2 linked regions of the Homo sapiens genome follow. The protein of the gene in region 1 interacts with the protein of each later gene in a biochemical or structural test. Each region holds a gene or a part of one and is shown on either strand. Other genes may lie near its edges.

Region 1 (7,932 bases):
ATCACTAAACAATTCTACCGTTCAAGAGGCTCTTTAAACAGACCTGTTTTTACGAATGGCTATTTTTTATATTAAACCAACCACCCTGGTGGGTGCCTGCATCATTGGTTTTTTGGCCCCAAACCAGGTTGCCGAAGAGAGTAGCAGTACCTCTATGAAAGCCAGCAGAGGGGTAGGTAGACTGATGTTTGATCCCAGTTCTTAGAAGAGCCTCAAGAAAGGACTTTGTGAGGGTTTAACATCTTAAGCTCCTGTGATCAAAACAGAGTCAACATGAGAAATGTGAGGCGGTCTTCAGAGACAGCTCCATAAACTGTCTGGAGGCTGGGAAAGAATTTGTCATGCATGCTTAATATGTAAAGCACTCTTTAGAATAAATGGAAATTGGTGATGGTAATGTCCGATGGGAATTACTATTTCCTACCTTCTCTTGTCAATAATATAAGCAATAAAAAAGCCCACAACTGAAATTCTGATGATACCCTCAGAACAGTTTCCCCAGTACTCTGCTCGCTTTAGAACATGGTACCTGAACCTTCTATTTTCTTTCCTACCCCACACCTCTGTTTGAGAGATCCGACCCAGCTTCTAGGAATTTGGTTTCCAAGATTCCACTTCCCCCCGCCCCCCGCCCCAATTCCCCTTGCACATTTCTGCGGTATTTCTTCCTCTTCTATCTAAGCCTACCAGAAAAAAATTAATAATAAAATAAATACTGAACCATCCCTCTACTCGCTGGTCCAGGGCCTCAATCAAAGGAACAGCTTGATTCCCAAAGCGTGGGAAGGGAGGAACTGAAGAAGTGCCCCCACTCCTCCCAGTAGAGCTATTCAAGATGCCTCCGGGCCCAGCTCACCGGCAGCACGCAGACTGCTCTCAGAGGAACTGGAGCGCCCGAGCTTCCTGCGCGCAACGCGCCAGCGCTCCACTTCCAACTCTGCTACCAAGTGAGCATATGAGCCCCCTTTTACCTTTTGGGGCAGCAGCCTGAAGAAATTTCCCTGTCCAGCCCTTCTAATCACACTGTGTCTCCTCCCTCCCGCAGCGACGACACTCCCCAGAGAATGGCTCTCCCAAGCTGGTGACAGGTGTTATCCCCCTGCTAACGTCTGAGCTCCGGGGCTGTGCAGCTAGGTCGGGCTCAGGGTGTTCCCGCTGGCCCAGTCCGGAATGATAATTGTCATAATGACTCCATTGGAGGTGGCTTTCCTTTGCCGTTTCTCCTGTGGGCGGACCAGGATGGTCAGTTCTTTTTCTTAACTCCAAAAGCGTTTCTTGCCTACCAGCTCTAGATTCCTGGGGCAGCCCCGCAGCAAGTAGGACCTTGGCGCTGCTGCAGTCTCGTTTGCCAAGACGCAAAGGAGTGTTTGTGCCGACGGCTGCCCTCTCCGCAGAAGTCGCTGGAATAAACGGGCACAATTGTCTGTGCATCATTTGGCTAAGCCCCGCTCCCCGTGCCAATTTCTCTACATTTTTGCTGCTTGTCTTCGCTTCTGGGCGCCCCCACACTACTCAGCGTGGGAAGAGTAAGGAGAGGCTGTGGGGTGCGGAGCGGAGGTTGGCTGTCTGGCCCGTGGGGCTCGTCTCTATCCCTTTGCCAATTTCCTCTCTCCACCCGATTTCGAAGCATCTCCTCTCCAGAGAAGGTCCTCGGCCTATCCACAGGCTCCTCCTCCATGCTCTGCCCATCCTCCTCCCACCTACTTCTTAAATGGGGCCCCCCCCAGCCCTCCTTCATCCTTTCACCTCTTTACCGCCCGGGGAAGGCCACCTTGCCCCGACGGCGCGCCCTGGGCCTGAGGCCTGCGTCAGTAGGCAGAGCTGCTGGGCAGCAGGTCGTAGCGCCCCCCGCTGTAGACCACGACGCCAGGTGGGTAGTAGAGCAGGTCCGGCTCCGCGGCCGCGTGGGGCGGCGCCGGGGCCTGCAGCCCCTGATCCTCGTGCTCCGGCTTGGTAGTGGCGGTGAAGGGGCGCATGCTGGTGATCGAAGGAGACGCGATGCGCCACAGCAGGCTCTTGAGCGCCTTGCGGAACTCGCGGCGCACGAGGCAGTAGAGGACGGGGTTGAGGCAGCTGTTGGAGTGCGCTAGGCACACGCTCACAGGGAACGCGTATACCTGGCACAGGAAATACTCCTGGCTGAAGGGCACCGCGTTGAACTTGATGAGGATGCTCCAGGTGGTGAGCGCCTGGTTGGGCAGCCAACACAGGAAGAAGGACAGGACAACGATGGTCACTGATTTGGTGACCTTCGACAGTCTCCGGGCGCTGGCTCCGGTCGGGCGTCCTCCGGCTACCGCGGCCCCTCCTTTGGTCCCCGCCGCGCGGCGGTCGGCGATGAAGCGCACCAGCAGCAGGTAGCACAAGATAATGATGCCCAGCGGCAGCACGAAGCCCAGCAGCACCTTCTGCGAGTGGTAGAGGCCCAGCCAGAACTGCCTGTCGCGGCCCAGCAACTTGTCCGGGAAACGCACCAGGCACAGCTCCTCGCCCATCACCTTGACCGTGGTGGAGAAAATGGCACTGGGCAGCGAGGCCAGCGCGGCCAAAGCCCAGATCCACACACACAGCGCCTTGGCCGAGAAGCAGCAGCTGTCCCCCAGGCTCCGGCCGCAGCAGTCGCCCCGGCCGTGTCCTCGGGTCCGGTGGCTCTTCAGAGCCGAGGCCACCGAATGGTAGCGCGTCACACTCATGGCAGTGAGGAAGAACACGCTGGCGTACATGTTCATGGACGTCACCATGGACACGATCTTACACATGGCCTTGCCGAAGGGCCATTTGAAGTCAAGAGCGTTCTCCACCGCCCAGAAGGGCAGGGTGAGCACAAACTGAAAGTCCGTCAGCGCCAGGTTGGTGACGAAGAGGTTGATAGAGGACTTGCGCCAGCCCTGCATGCTCTTCATCAGGTAGAGAACCAGCAGGTTGCCCGCCAACCCCAGGGCGCACACCACCCAGTACACCACGCTGATGAGAATCCGCACCCGGGCCTCTGTGTCCGCGCTCTCTGCCCCGCCGCTGCCCGGGGGATGTCCTGGCGGCGCGCCGTCCGGCAACTCCAGCCCCAGCTCCCACCACAAGTCCGGAAGCTGCAGCGACGCGTTACCACTCGTGTTGGCCGCCTCCAGAAGGTCCGGGACCAGACTGAAGAGTTCTGCTAGCTTGTCCCCGCCTGCTGCCTTATTCATGGTGGCTATCGTGGCTGCATCGGCCATCTGCATGCGCAGGTACCTCTAGGTCATGTTCTGGGGGACAAGACCTAAGATAACACGGTTTACCCCAGTTTTGTTGCCAGGCTAGCCTGCGGGACGTGCGTGGGAGCTTTCAAAGCAGCTACTGAAGAGAGAGCCCAGGAACTGGGTACTAAGCGCGTCCTGGCGCGCAGCGAACGCCCTGGACGCAGGAGTTGAGCTCAGCGGCTGCTTTGGAGCAGAGTTGAGGAGTGCAGCCCGTAAGGCAAGCACTCGGCGTCCAAGGGTTCTCAGGCCAAGCTCGGAGTCCCTAGGTCCTTATGTACAACGCAGACTTCCCCTCTCCGTGTCCCGCGGTCACTGGGGCACTGGCGCATAACTCCCCCAGCCGCTCAATTGTGCGATTTGGGGCCGCTCGCTCCCTTTCAAATACCTTTATCCGTTTCCTCTGGGACTGCTTGGATGAGGTTTCCGTCCTTGGAGAGAAAGAGATCGTAGAGTTCCATCCACCACGCTCAGCTTCCTGGAGGTCAGTGGGTGTCTGCGTCTCTCCGCGGTTGTCAACTCCGGGTGGGTTGCCAGCGGCTCTCACCAGTTACGGTGGCACTTGCACGGCCAAGGCGGCGGGCCCCAAGGAGCATGCGTAATCCCGGGGCGCCGCGAGGGGCGCTTTCCGAGGTGCTGAACCCAGCCGCGCCCGCGCCGCGAGGGAGAGTTGAGCTGCAGGCAAAGCCCACCCGCCACTCCAGTTTTCCTCTCCAGAGTTTCAGCAGGAAGGGTCTTAAGAGTTTATTTTACAGCTGCAGGAGAAAGTCGGCTTTGACGTGAGTTTCTTCTTCCTTTCTTATTCCCAAACATTATGATTAGAAGTTTTTTTTTTCTTTCTTCCTCACTCCCACTTTTCACCGGAATTATTCCATTTGGTGAGGAATTGTTCTAAAAATATGAGCTATCCTGCTTACTTTCCTTCTTGAAAGTAATAACAGTGGCCTCTTTTCATGCTCAAATGAGATAATGGGTACTTATTGGATACACAAAGGACAGCTCCACCTCCCCTCTTTAATTAGCTGACCACTTACGCAGTACCTGTGTTTGTCAGGATTTTCAAAGGGTCTTCACATGGCAGAAGTCTGGGCTCAAGGGTTGCCCCTACTTTAATGTATTCTGAGAGGTGACACAAAAACAGAGCAAACAACTGATGGTCCTACTTCACAGAAATTAAATGCCCTAAGCCCAAAGCGCTTCAACAAATTGTTTGATCACATACAGGCCACAGTCTCTTTACCTAGATGCAAATAGAATAGAGGATACCACTGGGCTGATCGTGAACCACCAGCCCTCCTATTTCCATTACTGTTAGCATCAGGACTCTTTTTCAGGCGTTTTTCAGACCAATGGAAGTACATTCTAAGGACTCTTCCAAGGGAATGAGTGGAAACCACTTGAATTACTTCTCAAGCTTCAGTCTACATAAATGCCAGGTCAATCGCTCTGGTGTAAATTACACTTTTAGGATTTACTTTAAAATTTTGAAATGTTTTCCTCTTGGTCTGGGACTAAACTGAAACCAAAGTTTCTTAAGCATAATTGTCCTCACTCCTGGAGTACTACAGAACTCCCAGCTTTACTTAAGGAGATAAAGAGGATGCAACCTTCAAGCTGAGGAGATAAGAAACAGAAAAAGAAAGAAAGAGAAAAACGAAAAAGAAAGAAAGAAAGAAAGAAAGAAAGAAAGAAAGAAAGAAAGAAAAGAAAAGAAAGAGAAAAAGGAAAAAAGAAAAAAAAAGAAACAAGAAACAATCTTGATTCCAAAGGACTTTTAGCCCTGAAGAGCACACACCTTGCTACGGATGCTGCACAGCTCCGTCTTCCCACTAGAGGGAGTAAGGGCTTTAGTAAAAACCTAGCCAAACACAAACATCTCCTTTGATCAGTTCTTACCTGGAGATCACCCCTGCCCTGAGGATTCCTCCCAAAGCACAGGTTATTTCTATGGATGACTATTATCCTGGTTTTAGTAGCCTCACTTTCACACTCAGTTTTGACTTTATTTTTAACTGGTTATTTCTCCATCAATTTTCTCTCTCTCTTCATCTATGTCTCTATTTCTCTTTTCTAATATTTCAAGGGGCTGTTGAAACACAAGAAAAGCTGGGGCATACCCTGAAAGCTCTCTGCTGTTAAATTTTTGGTATGTTCACACCAATGACCTCCATCTAACACATACACAGCTTCTCAGTGCTTCTAGGCACACCCAGGAATATATCTACTTGGTCTGCTCCAAATCACATGTACATATTCATACTTTATGAAAAAATTATAGGGGCCTGATTCAATTCATCTCACATTCATTGGCCACTTACTCTTGCCAGGCACTGAGATAGGCTGAAAGACATAAGTCCTCTATTTTGAGCGTCTCTGGAATTCTTAATCTAGATGAGTGTGCAATCTACTAGTGTCTAAAACTATATTTTTTGTTTAGTTTTGTGCATGACTAAGTTATCTAGAATGTAATGATTCATGCCAGATAAGTGGACAATAATTTTACCTCTTTTATTATTTCCCTTTTTTTTTAAGGGGTGGGTAGGTAATAAATAGTTATACCTTGATGGGATATTCCAGTTTTAGGTTTTTTGGGAGGGGGTACTCTATGTTGGTATTTAAAGAAACCATAAAGGAGGAAGGGTGCAGAGCTTGTTATGTTACATATGTGGTCTGTTTTTCTGTTCCTCTTCTTACCAAAATTGAAACCAGGCTGTGATGGGGGCCTGGAGGAAAATCAGCATCAAGAAACTGTCTCTCATTCACAGTGGCAGGGTATGGGATCTTGAAACCTTTTTCTGGGCTTCTTTTGTGTTCCTGAAGCCATGTGGGCCATGCGAAGCCATGAGGACAGCATAAAATCATACTCTAGCATGTAACCATTGGGAGCCCATGATCATAGAAGGGAAGAAATCACCTGCTTTGGTCCAGCATTTTGCGGAGGAGGCTTGAAGAAATGAAGGTATTTACCAAGAATCTCACCACTAGGAAGGAGCCACACCCGGTCTAAAACATAGTCTTGACTCTTAAGTGATGTCTCTTGATCTATGCTCCATTTTCCAATTTGGATCTAAGTCTTCCATATTGTTTTTCAACACAGGGGTGGGTGGTAGGCTGAATAATGCCTCCCCCCACACACAAATATGTCCACATCCCATTTCCCAAGCCCTTGGATGTTACTTTATACAGCCAAAGGAACTTTGCAGCCACTAGAAGCTTAACTAAGCAAAAAGATGGATTCTCTCCTAAAGCCTCAAGAAGGAAACAGCTCTTCTGACATCTTGGCTTTACTCTAGTGAAACTGATTTTGAATCTCTGATCTCCAGAACTGTGAGAGAATAAATGTACCTTCTTTTAAGCCACAACATTTCTGCCCATGTGTTATAATAGCAATAGAAACTAGCATAGGGTGGGTACACAGCCTGGCTTGAACATAACCTAATGGGAAATGGAGCAATTCTGATTTGAACATGTTGGTTAATCTTAACACCGACTTTGTGCTAGACACTGTGTCATGTACTAGAGATTTAGTGGTACCAGAACTCACATTCTAATAGATGAGAGAGACCTTTTAAAAATTTGAATTCTGGGTTGGGCACACTGTCTCATGTCTGTAATTCCAGCACTTTGGGGTGCTGAGGCAGGCAGATCACTTAAGGTCAGGAGTTCAAGACCAGCCTAGCCAACATGGTGAAACCCCGTCTCTACTAAAAATACAAAAATTAGCTGTGTGTAGTGGCACATGCCTGTAGTCCCAGCTACTCTGGAGGCTGAGCCAGGAGACTTGCTTGAGCCCAGGAGGTGGGGGTTGCAATGAGCTGAGATCACATGGCTGGACTCCAGCCTGGGCAACAGAGCAAGACGCCATTTCAAAAAAAAAAAAAAAATTCTAATAAATTGTATTATTATAATTACAATAAGAAAAAAACAGAGTAAAATAGAAAGTTACAAAACCATGTGCAAGTAACTAACTTTTAACTATTTACAAGCATATTTATCTAATTCTAAGATTCACATCTTATCAAATTAAAGATTTTTAAGATCAATATGGATTTCCAATTGCTATATACCTATTTAGTGAATAATTTTTTTCTCTAGAAAGCTGTAAACAAAAGGTGTGTCTTATAAGCTATAGTATCTTGGAAGAAAGGAAATTCTATAATCAGGTAAATGGGGGTGAGGTGGGGGTAAGGAAAGGGGAAGAAAGAGGACTCTGGGCAGAAGGAACAGCCTGAGTGAAGGCACTGGGCAGGAAAGAGCATGATGCTTTTGTAGGACAGAAAGAAGATGAAGTGCCTATAACACAGGGAGATGAAGTAAATAGTGCTAGATAGTCTGGTGACATGGGCAGGTGTCAAACAATTTCCGACTGCAGAATTTTGATCTATGACTTTGGAGTAATGGAGGACATTGGAAAATTTGAAGCAGGGGAGCAACACAATCAGTTTCGCATATTCAAACCATCACTCTAGATATAGTGTGATGAGTAGACTGGAAGGGGCGGAGCTGATATAAATCAAGACAATTAGGAAGCTACATCAATAGTTCAGGAGAGAGATGATTGTACTTTAATCTAGAGGGATGCGGGGCAGAATAAGATTTAAATAGGCATTTAAGACACTGACTTGACAGTACTTGGGGGTGGACTGCATACAAAGAAAGGGTGAAGGTAAGGACAAATTAAAAGCTTTCAAGTTTTTAC
Region 2 (7,983 bases), on another chromosome or scaffold:
GTCATGATAGGCTGGTCAAAGGGCAGGGTTGGATAGGTGGTGTCGGGAGACTGTGCCTGAGCCCACAGTGCCTCTGTGACTTGTAGATGAATGAATGAATGTGTGAGGCTCGAAAGACAGGTGCCCAGCCAGACACTAGTTGAGTGGATGGCAGGACTGGGGCATTGGTCCTGGTGCCCACGGCTGCCCAGCCCTCAAACTAGCAAAGGCTACTGATTTCACTTTTGCTACACCCCCACTTGCAGCAGCTGCTGGAAAGGCCAGCCAGGACATCTCGGCTGCCCCGAAGAACCCCAGGGGTTCCTTGCCAGCTGGGTCGCCCCCTGTAAAAGGCCTGGGGTGACTTGGTCAGGGCCAGCCACTCGCTGGACCCCATGGCCTCATCCAGCTCGCCTGCCAGACTGTCTTCATCAGCATCTGCATCCGGGAAGGTATCTCCTGCAAAAGATGAACAGAGTTAGTGATCAGGGCTCAGCTGCTGCTGCACCCACAGTCATGGCTCCTGGCCAGTCTAGCTCTGATCTTGTGACAACAGTCATAGACATAGTTCAGAGTTTTTATTCCACCCAGTCCTGGGTTCAAATTCTGGCTCTGCCAGAGTAGGTGGGATTACAGGTGTCTGCCAGCAGGCCTGGCTGATTTTTGTATTGTTATAGAGATGGGGTTCACCATGTTGTTCAGGCTGGTCGCAAACTCCTGACCTCAAGTGATGTGCCCACCTCAGCCACCCAAAGTGCTGGGATTACAGGCGTGAGCCACCGCACCCAGCCCTGTCATTTATTTCTCCTTACTCTTTATTAATTGAGGACCTGGTACATTTGGGAGCTGGGCTGACTGAGCATGAATCCAGCTTCTCTAATCGTGAGCAAGTAAATTTACTTCTTGGAGCCTCAATGTTCTTTTCTGCAAAGTGGAAAAAAATAATTACTCCAACCTTCTCAAGTTTTATAAGGAGTTAATATTCATTAAAAAAAAAAACTTAGAACAATGTCTGGAACATGATGAGCACTCAAAAATGACTATTGAGTCCGGGCACGGTGTCTCACACCTGTAATCCCAGCACTTCCAGGGGCACATGCTGGAGGATCACCAGAACCAGGAGTTCAAGAACAGCCTGGACAACACAGCACTACCCTGTCTCTACAAATAATAAAAAGTTAGACATGTTGGCACAAGCCTGTAGTCCCAGCTACTCAGGAGGCTGAGGCAGGAGAATTGCTTGAGCCCAAGAGGTTGAAGCTGCAGTGAGCTGTGATCACACCACTGCACTCCAGTCTGGGCAACAGAGCAAGACCCTGTCTCAAAAATAATAATAATAATAATAATAATAATAATAATAATTTATTGATCACTTACTTTGTGTCAAACAACGTTTTAAGTGCTTTAGCAGGTTAACTTCTTTATTCTTCTCAGTGATAACCAGTTGAGGTGGGTGCAGTTATCACCCGTATTTTCCAGAGGAGACCACTGAGGCAGGACTCAGTAAAGAATTTGCATGGCTGGGCGCGGTGGCTCATGCCTGTAATCCCAGCACTTTGGGAGGCTGAGGTGGGAGGATCACCTGAGGTCAGGAGTTGGAGACCAGCCTGGCCAACATGGTGAAACTGTCTCTACTAAAAATAAAAAGATTAGCGAGGTATGGTGGCACACATCTGTAATCCCAGCTACTTGGGAGGCTGGAGGCACGAGAATCGCTTGAACCCAGGTGATGGAGGTTACAGTGAGCCAAGATTGCACCACTGCACTCCAGCCTGGGCAACAGAATGAGATTCTGTCTCAAAAAAAAAAAAAATAGTAGCACATGAACACACAACTATTACATTGTAGAGCTACTATCTGAATCCAAGTGGTGTGTCTTCTATGTCCACGCTCATACCTATCCTCCTTCTCACCATCATGAATATCTATTTGCCAGGTCCCTGCCCCTCATGAAGCTAGGTCTTCTGTTCCCTCTGACTCTCCTGATGGATCCCAGATTGTGCCGCTGCCCTGCTGAGACTCTGCCCTAATCTGTTTTGATTTAATCATACCACTTAATCCTGCAAGATTCAGGAACTGTGTCTCCCATTTGAAGATAAAGACACTCAGAGACTCTAATCTCAGCACTTAGGGAGGCCGAGGTGGGAGGATCACTTGAGCCCAGGAGTTCGAGACCAGCCTAGGCAACATAGTGAGACCCCTGTTTCTACAAAAAAAAAATTTAAAACTAGCCAGGCATGGTGTCAGGTGCCTGTGGTCTCAACTACTCTGGAGGCGGAGGCAGGAGAATCACTTGAGCCTGGGAGGTCGAGGCTGCAATGAGCAGTGATTGGGCCACTGCATTCAAGCCTGGGCAATGGAGTGAGACCACATCTCCAAAAAAAAGACACTCAGAGACGGAAGAAAAACCAACTTGCTGGGGAGAGGTCATGCATTAGGTGACAAACCCAGCTATGTGTATACCACACCCTTCACATTACCTGCTGGAAAGGGTTGGAAAACACTTCGGTGTTGTCTTTGCAAATGGCACGCTCCCCGCCCCCACCTGTCCTCAGACTTCCAGCCCCCATGGATGGCTTGCAACACCCCATCCCAGCTCTGCAGCTCTGCTAACTCCTGAGCCCTTGTTTCAAGGCTGGGCAGGTGTCCCTGGCTGAATGTGGCAGGACAGGGACCCTCCTCCTCCAGCAACCTCCTCTTATCTCTGTCCTTAGCTCCTGGGACCCATCCAGCCACCTGTTCCCCTTCTACATCCACTCTCTCCCCAGCCTCACCCATAGCCTCGTGGGCCAGGATGTCTGATCGTCTCCACCGGGAGCCCCCGCAGGTGAAGATGACTGCTCGGATGAATTCTCGGCCGCAAAGCCTGACCCCGTAAGGCGCTGCCCGGGCCTCAGCTCCCGGCCACAGCTCCCCGGTCAGCACCCATACCGCCAGGAGCAGCAGCAGCATGTACCTGGCCATGCTGGACGGAGATGCTTTGAACGTGAGAGTGGGCCAGTGTCTCTGCTGCCTCTTGGCCCCCCATTTATACATCGTGGCTCCCCCACACTCTGCCTGAAGAAAGCTGAGTGCCTCCCTTATCTTCTCCAGCAGAGGGGAGACAGGCACGGCCCCCCCAACCCGACCTTTCTCATGTCCCCAGCGAAGTGATAACCTTTCGCTAGGGACAGGGTGATGTGGCCCAGCTTATTGTCAACATCATTGACAGAGAGGCGAGAAGGTCTCCAACCTGCAGAGACCAGAAACGCATAATCCCAAAAGGCGGGGTAAGGTGACACAACCAGATCCCCACAACGTTAGGGTCCTGGACCTCTTCGAAGATCATAATAGCAGTGAACGCCCAGTGCAGTATGTGCTACGAGGCCAGGCACACTACTGTAAGCATTTTATTGTTTATTTGTTTGTTTGTTTGTTTAGATGGAGTCTCGCTCTGTCACCCAGGCTAGAGGTACAGTCCCAATGGCACAATCTTGGCTCACTGCAACCTCCGCCTCCCAGATTCAAGAAATTCTCCCGCCTCAGCCTCCCAAGTAGTTGGGATTACAGGCGCCCACCACCACACCTGGCTAATTTTTGTATTTTCAGTAGAGACGGGGTTTTACCACGTTGGCCAGGCTGGTCTCGAACTCCTGGCCTCAGGTGATCCGCCTGTCTCAGCCTCCCAAAGTGCTGGGATTACAGATATGAGCCACAGCCCTCAGCTGCTCAAAGCATTTTATATCTCTGTAATGTATTTGATTCTCCCAACAACCCAGGGTAATGGTTCTCAAATGTGAGTGAGCTTCAGAATCTTTGGGTAGGCTTGTTAAAACAGAAATCAGGCCAGGCGCGGTGGCTCACGCCTGTAATCCCAGCACTTTGGGAGGCCATGGCAGGAGGATTACCTGAGGTCCGGAGTTCGAGACCAGCCTGGCCAACATGGTGAAACCCCGCCTCTACTAAAAATACAAAAAATTAGCCGGGTGTGGTGGCTCATGTCTGTAGCCCCAGCTCCTTGGGAGGCTGAGGCAGGAGAATTGCTTGAACCTGGGAGGTGGAGGTTGCAGTGAGCTGAGATGGCGCCACTGCACTTCAGCCTGGGCAACAGAGTGAGACTCTGTCTCAAAAACAAACAAACAAAACACATATCTTTGTGTCCTACCTGCAGAGCTCCTGACTCAACAGGTATGGAACATATCTAAGAATCTGCATTTCCAACCAGTTCCCAGGTGACATTGATCCTGCTGGTTCAGAAACCAGACTTTTTTTTTTTTCTTTTTTTCAGAGACAGGGTCTGGCTATGTTGCCCAGGCTGGATTGTAGTGGTGGCAACATAGCTCACTGCAGCCTTGAATTCCCGGGTTCAAATGATCCTCCCACCTCAGCCTCCTAAGTAGCTGGGACTACAGGTGTGTACCACCATGCTCAGCTAATTTTTGTATTTTTTGTAGAGATGAGACCTCACAATGTTGCCCGGGCTGGTCTCAAACTCTTGGACTCAAGGGACCCAAATGCGTCAGACTCTCGAAGTGCTGGGATTGGCTGGACACAGTGGTTCACACCTGTAATCCCAGCACTTTGGGAGGTCGAGGCGGGTGGATCACCTGAGGTCAGGAGTTTGAGACCAGCCTGGCCAACATGATGAAACCCTGTCTCTATTAAAAATATAAAAATTAGCCGGGCATGGTGGCGGGTGCCTGTAATCCCAGCTACTGAGAAGGCTGAGGCAGGAGAATCGCTTGAACCCAGGAGGCAGAGGTTGCAGTGAGCCAAGATTGTGTCATTGCACTCCAGCCTGGAGCACCACGCCCAGCCCAGAAACCACAGTTTCTTTCTTTCTTTTTTTTTTTTTTTTGAGATGGAGTCTCGCACTGTCGCCCAGGCTGGAGTGCAGTGGCATGATCTCGGCTCACTGCAAGCTCCCCACTTCCCAGGTTCACGCCATTCTCCTGCCTCAGCCTCCCGAGTAGCTGGGACTACAGGCGCCCGCCACCACGCCCGGCTAATTTTTTGTATTTTTAGTAGAGACGGGGTTTCACTGTGTTAGCCAGGATGGTCTCGATCTCCTGACCTCGTGATCCGCCCGCCTCGACCTCCCAAAGTGCTGGGATTACAGGCGTGAGACACTGCGCCCGGCGGAAACCACACTTTTAAGAGCATGGGGTTATGAATTCAGGACTAAGATAATTCTCATATTACAAATGAGGAAACGGAGACACAGAAGGGTGTCCTGAGGCAGCAGATCCTAACGTTTTTGACGCCAGAAACCGGTTTCGTGGAAGACAATTTTTCCATGGATGGAGTGTCAAGTGGATGGTTTCGGGATGATTCAAGCGTATCACTTTTTTTTTTTTTTTTTTTTTTTTTGAGATGGAGTCTTGCTGTGTCACCAGGCTGGAGTGCAATGGCGCAATCTTGGCTCACTGCAACTTCTGCCTCCCAGGTTCAAGCGATTCTCCTGCCTCAGCTTCCGAGTAGCTGGGACTACAGGCATATGCCACCACGCCCAGCTAATTTTTGTATTTTTAGTAGAGACGAGGTTTCACCATGTTGTCCAGGTTGGTCCCGATCTCTTGACCTCATGATCCGTCCACCTCGGCCTCCCAAAGTGCTGGGACTACAGGCATGAGCCACCGCGCCTGGCCAAGCGCATCACATTTATTGTGCACTTTATTTCTATTATTATTATACTGTAGTTGTATATTGAAATAATCATACAACTCACCATAATGTAAAATTAGTGGCAGTGGCCAGGCACAGTGGCTCATGCCTGTAATCCTAGAACTTTGGGCAGCTGAGGCGGGCGAGTCACTTGAGGTCAGGAGTTCGAGACCAGCCTGGCCGACATGGTCAAACCCCATCTCTACTAATAGTACAAAAATTAGCTGGGCATGGTGGCACATGCCTGTAATCCCAGTTACTCAGGAGTCTGAGGCAGGAGACTCACTTGAACCCAGGAGGCAGAGTCTGCAGTGAGCCGAGATTGAGCCACTGTGCATCAGCGTGGGCGACAGAGTGAGACTTTGTCACAAAAAATAATCATCATCATCATAATAAAATAAAAATATATATATTGAGAGGCTGGGAATGATGGCTCACGCCTGTAATTCCGGAACTTTGGGCAGCCAAGGCAGGAGGATTGCTTGAACCCAAGAGTTCCAGACCAGCCTGGGCAACAGGTGAAACCCCACCTCTACAAATAATGTAAAAATTAGCCAGGTGTGGTGGCACACATCTGTGATCCCAGCTACTCAGGAGGCTGAGGTGGGAAGATCACTTTTGCCTAAGCGTTCAAGGCTGCCATGAGCTGAGATTGCATCACTGCACTCCAGCCTGTACAACGGAGCCAAACCTTGTCTAAAAAAAAAAAAAATTGAGGCCGGGCATGGTGGCTCATGCCTGTAATCCCAGCACTTTGGGAGGCTGAGGAGGACGGATCACTTGAGGTCAAGAGTTTGAGACCAGCCTGGCCAACACGGTGAAACCCGTCTCTACTAAAAATACAAAAATTTGCTGGGCATGGTGGCAGATGCCTGTAATCCCAGCTACTCAGGAGGCTGAGGCAGGAGAATCTCTTGAACCTGGGAGTCGGAGGATGCAGTGAGCGGAGATCACGCCATTGCACTCCAGCCTGGGCAACAAGAGCGAAACTCTGTCTCAAAAAAAAAAAAAAAAAGAGAGAGATAACATCCATATAAAATAAAACTAACCAGGCCAGGTACGGTGGCTCACGTCTGTAATCCCAGCACTTTGGGAGGCCAAGGCGGGCAGATCACTTGAGTTCAGGAGTTTGAGACCAGCCTGTCCACCGTAGTGTAAAACCCAGTCTCTAACAAAAATACAAAAATTAGCCAGGTGGGAAACAGGTGGTTTACAAATGTAAACCACTGCGGCCAGTCTTTCTTTTTTAAAGAGATGAGGCCTAACTATGTTGCCCAGGCTGATCTGGAACTCCTGAGCTCAAGTGATCCTCCCCCTTTGGCCTCCCAAAGTGCTAGGACTACAGGCATGAGCCACCAGGCACAGCTATGTTAATGTCAATTTCACCTCGACTTTAAAACACAGCAAAAACAAGGGCTCTGGTAAGGGGGGCAAGCTTGGCTTCAAATTCCACCTCTGCCTCTTTCCTGCTGTGTGACCTTGGCCAAGTCACTTAAACTCTCTGTGCCTTGGTTTCCTCACTTGCAAAATGGGAAAGATTTAATGAGTGAGTCAAATTTTTACAACAATCTCCTGCATGAAGTAAGTGCTGTTTAAATGTTATTTCTACTGGACACGTTCCCTTTGGATTAGAACTTCATCTCTTTGTCCTTTTCTCTGTCACAAACTCCTGGCCCCAGTTGCCTGCTGTGGATGTCACAGGCCAAGGGCAACCTTCCGGAGGCAGAGGTCACCTCTGATTGCTCTGTTTCTAAAGGGCTGGTGAATAATACTCTCTTCCCCTCGGCCTCTTCTCCAGGAACTTCCTGTAGGGAGGTACCCTCCTGCCCTTTTCTCCTGCGCCCCCAGTGCCTGGCCTGGGGAAGAACAAGCATTCAGGAAATATCTGCTGCCTGCCTGCCTGACTTAACTGATGGGCCTCAAACCAGAAGCCTCTTTTTTCTTTTTCTTTTCTTTTTTTTTTTTTTTTGACACAGGGTCTCACTCTGTCGCTCAGACTGGAGTGCAATGGAGTGATCTCGGCTCATCGCAGCCTCTGTCTCCAGGGTTCAAGCTATTCATGTGCCTCAGCCTCCCAAGTAGCTAGGACTGCAGGTGTGCGCCACCATGTCTGGTTAATTTTTGTATTTTTAGTAGAGACGGGGTTTTGCCATGTTGGCCAGGCTAGCCTCAAACTCTTGATCTCAAGTGATCTGCCCACCTCAGCCTCCCAAAGTGCTGGCGTGAGTCACTGCACCCAGCCCAGAAGCGTCTTTTGTGTCTCACATAGAATCAGAGTTTTGGGCCCAACATAGCTAGGTTCAAATCTCTGTTCCTGTGTATCCTTGGGCAAGACCCTATACCTCTCTGAGTTCATTGTGA

What was found. Proteins that work in one complex are often made in the same cells at the same time.
Region 2: the proteins of RXFP3 (region 1) and RLN3 form a complex in vitro, tested with the Homo sapiens proteins (2 studies listed by BioGRID, with this or other methods).

Annotation. Positions count from the first base shown.
Region 1 is NC_000005.10:33,932,027-33,939,958, reverse strand, and holds RXFP3 (relaxin-3 receptor 1), read right to left. Parts: upstream 3,574-7,932; 5' UTR 3,219-3,573; coding exon 1,809-3,218; 3' UTR 1,041-1,808; downstream 1-1,040. UniProt on the Homo sapiens protein: Receptor for RNL3/relaxin-3. Binding of the ligand inhibit cAMP accumulation.
Region 2 is NC_000019.10:14,023,165-14,031,147, reverse strand, and holds the start of RLN3 (relaxin-3 preproprotein), read right to left. Parts: upstream 3,001-7,983; 5' UTR 2,944-3,000; coding exon 2,754-2,943; intron 904-2,753; coding exon of another isoform or gene 792-903; intron 439-791; coding exon 200-438; 3' UTR 1-199. UniProt on the Homo sapiens protein: May play a role in neuropeptide signaling processes. Ligand for LGR7, RXFP3 and RXFP4.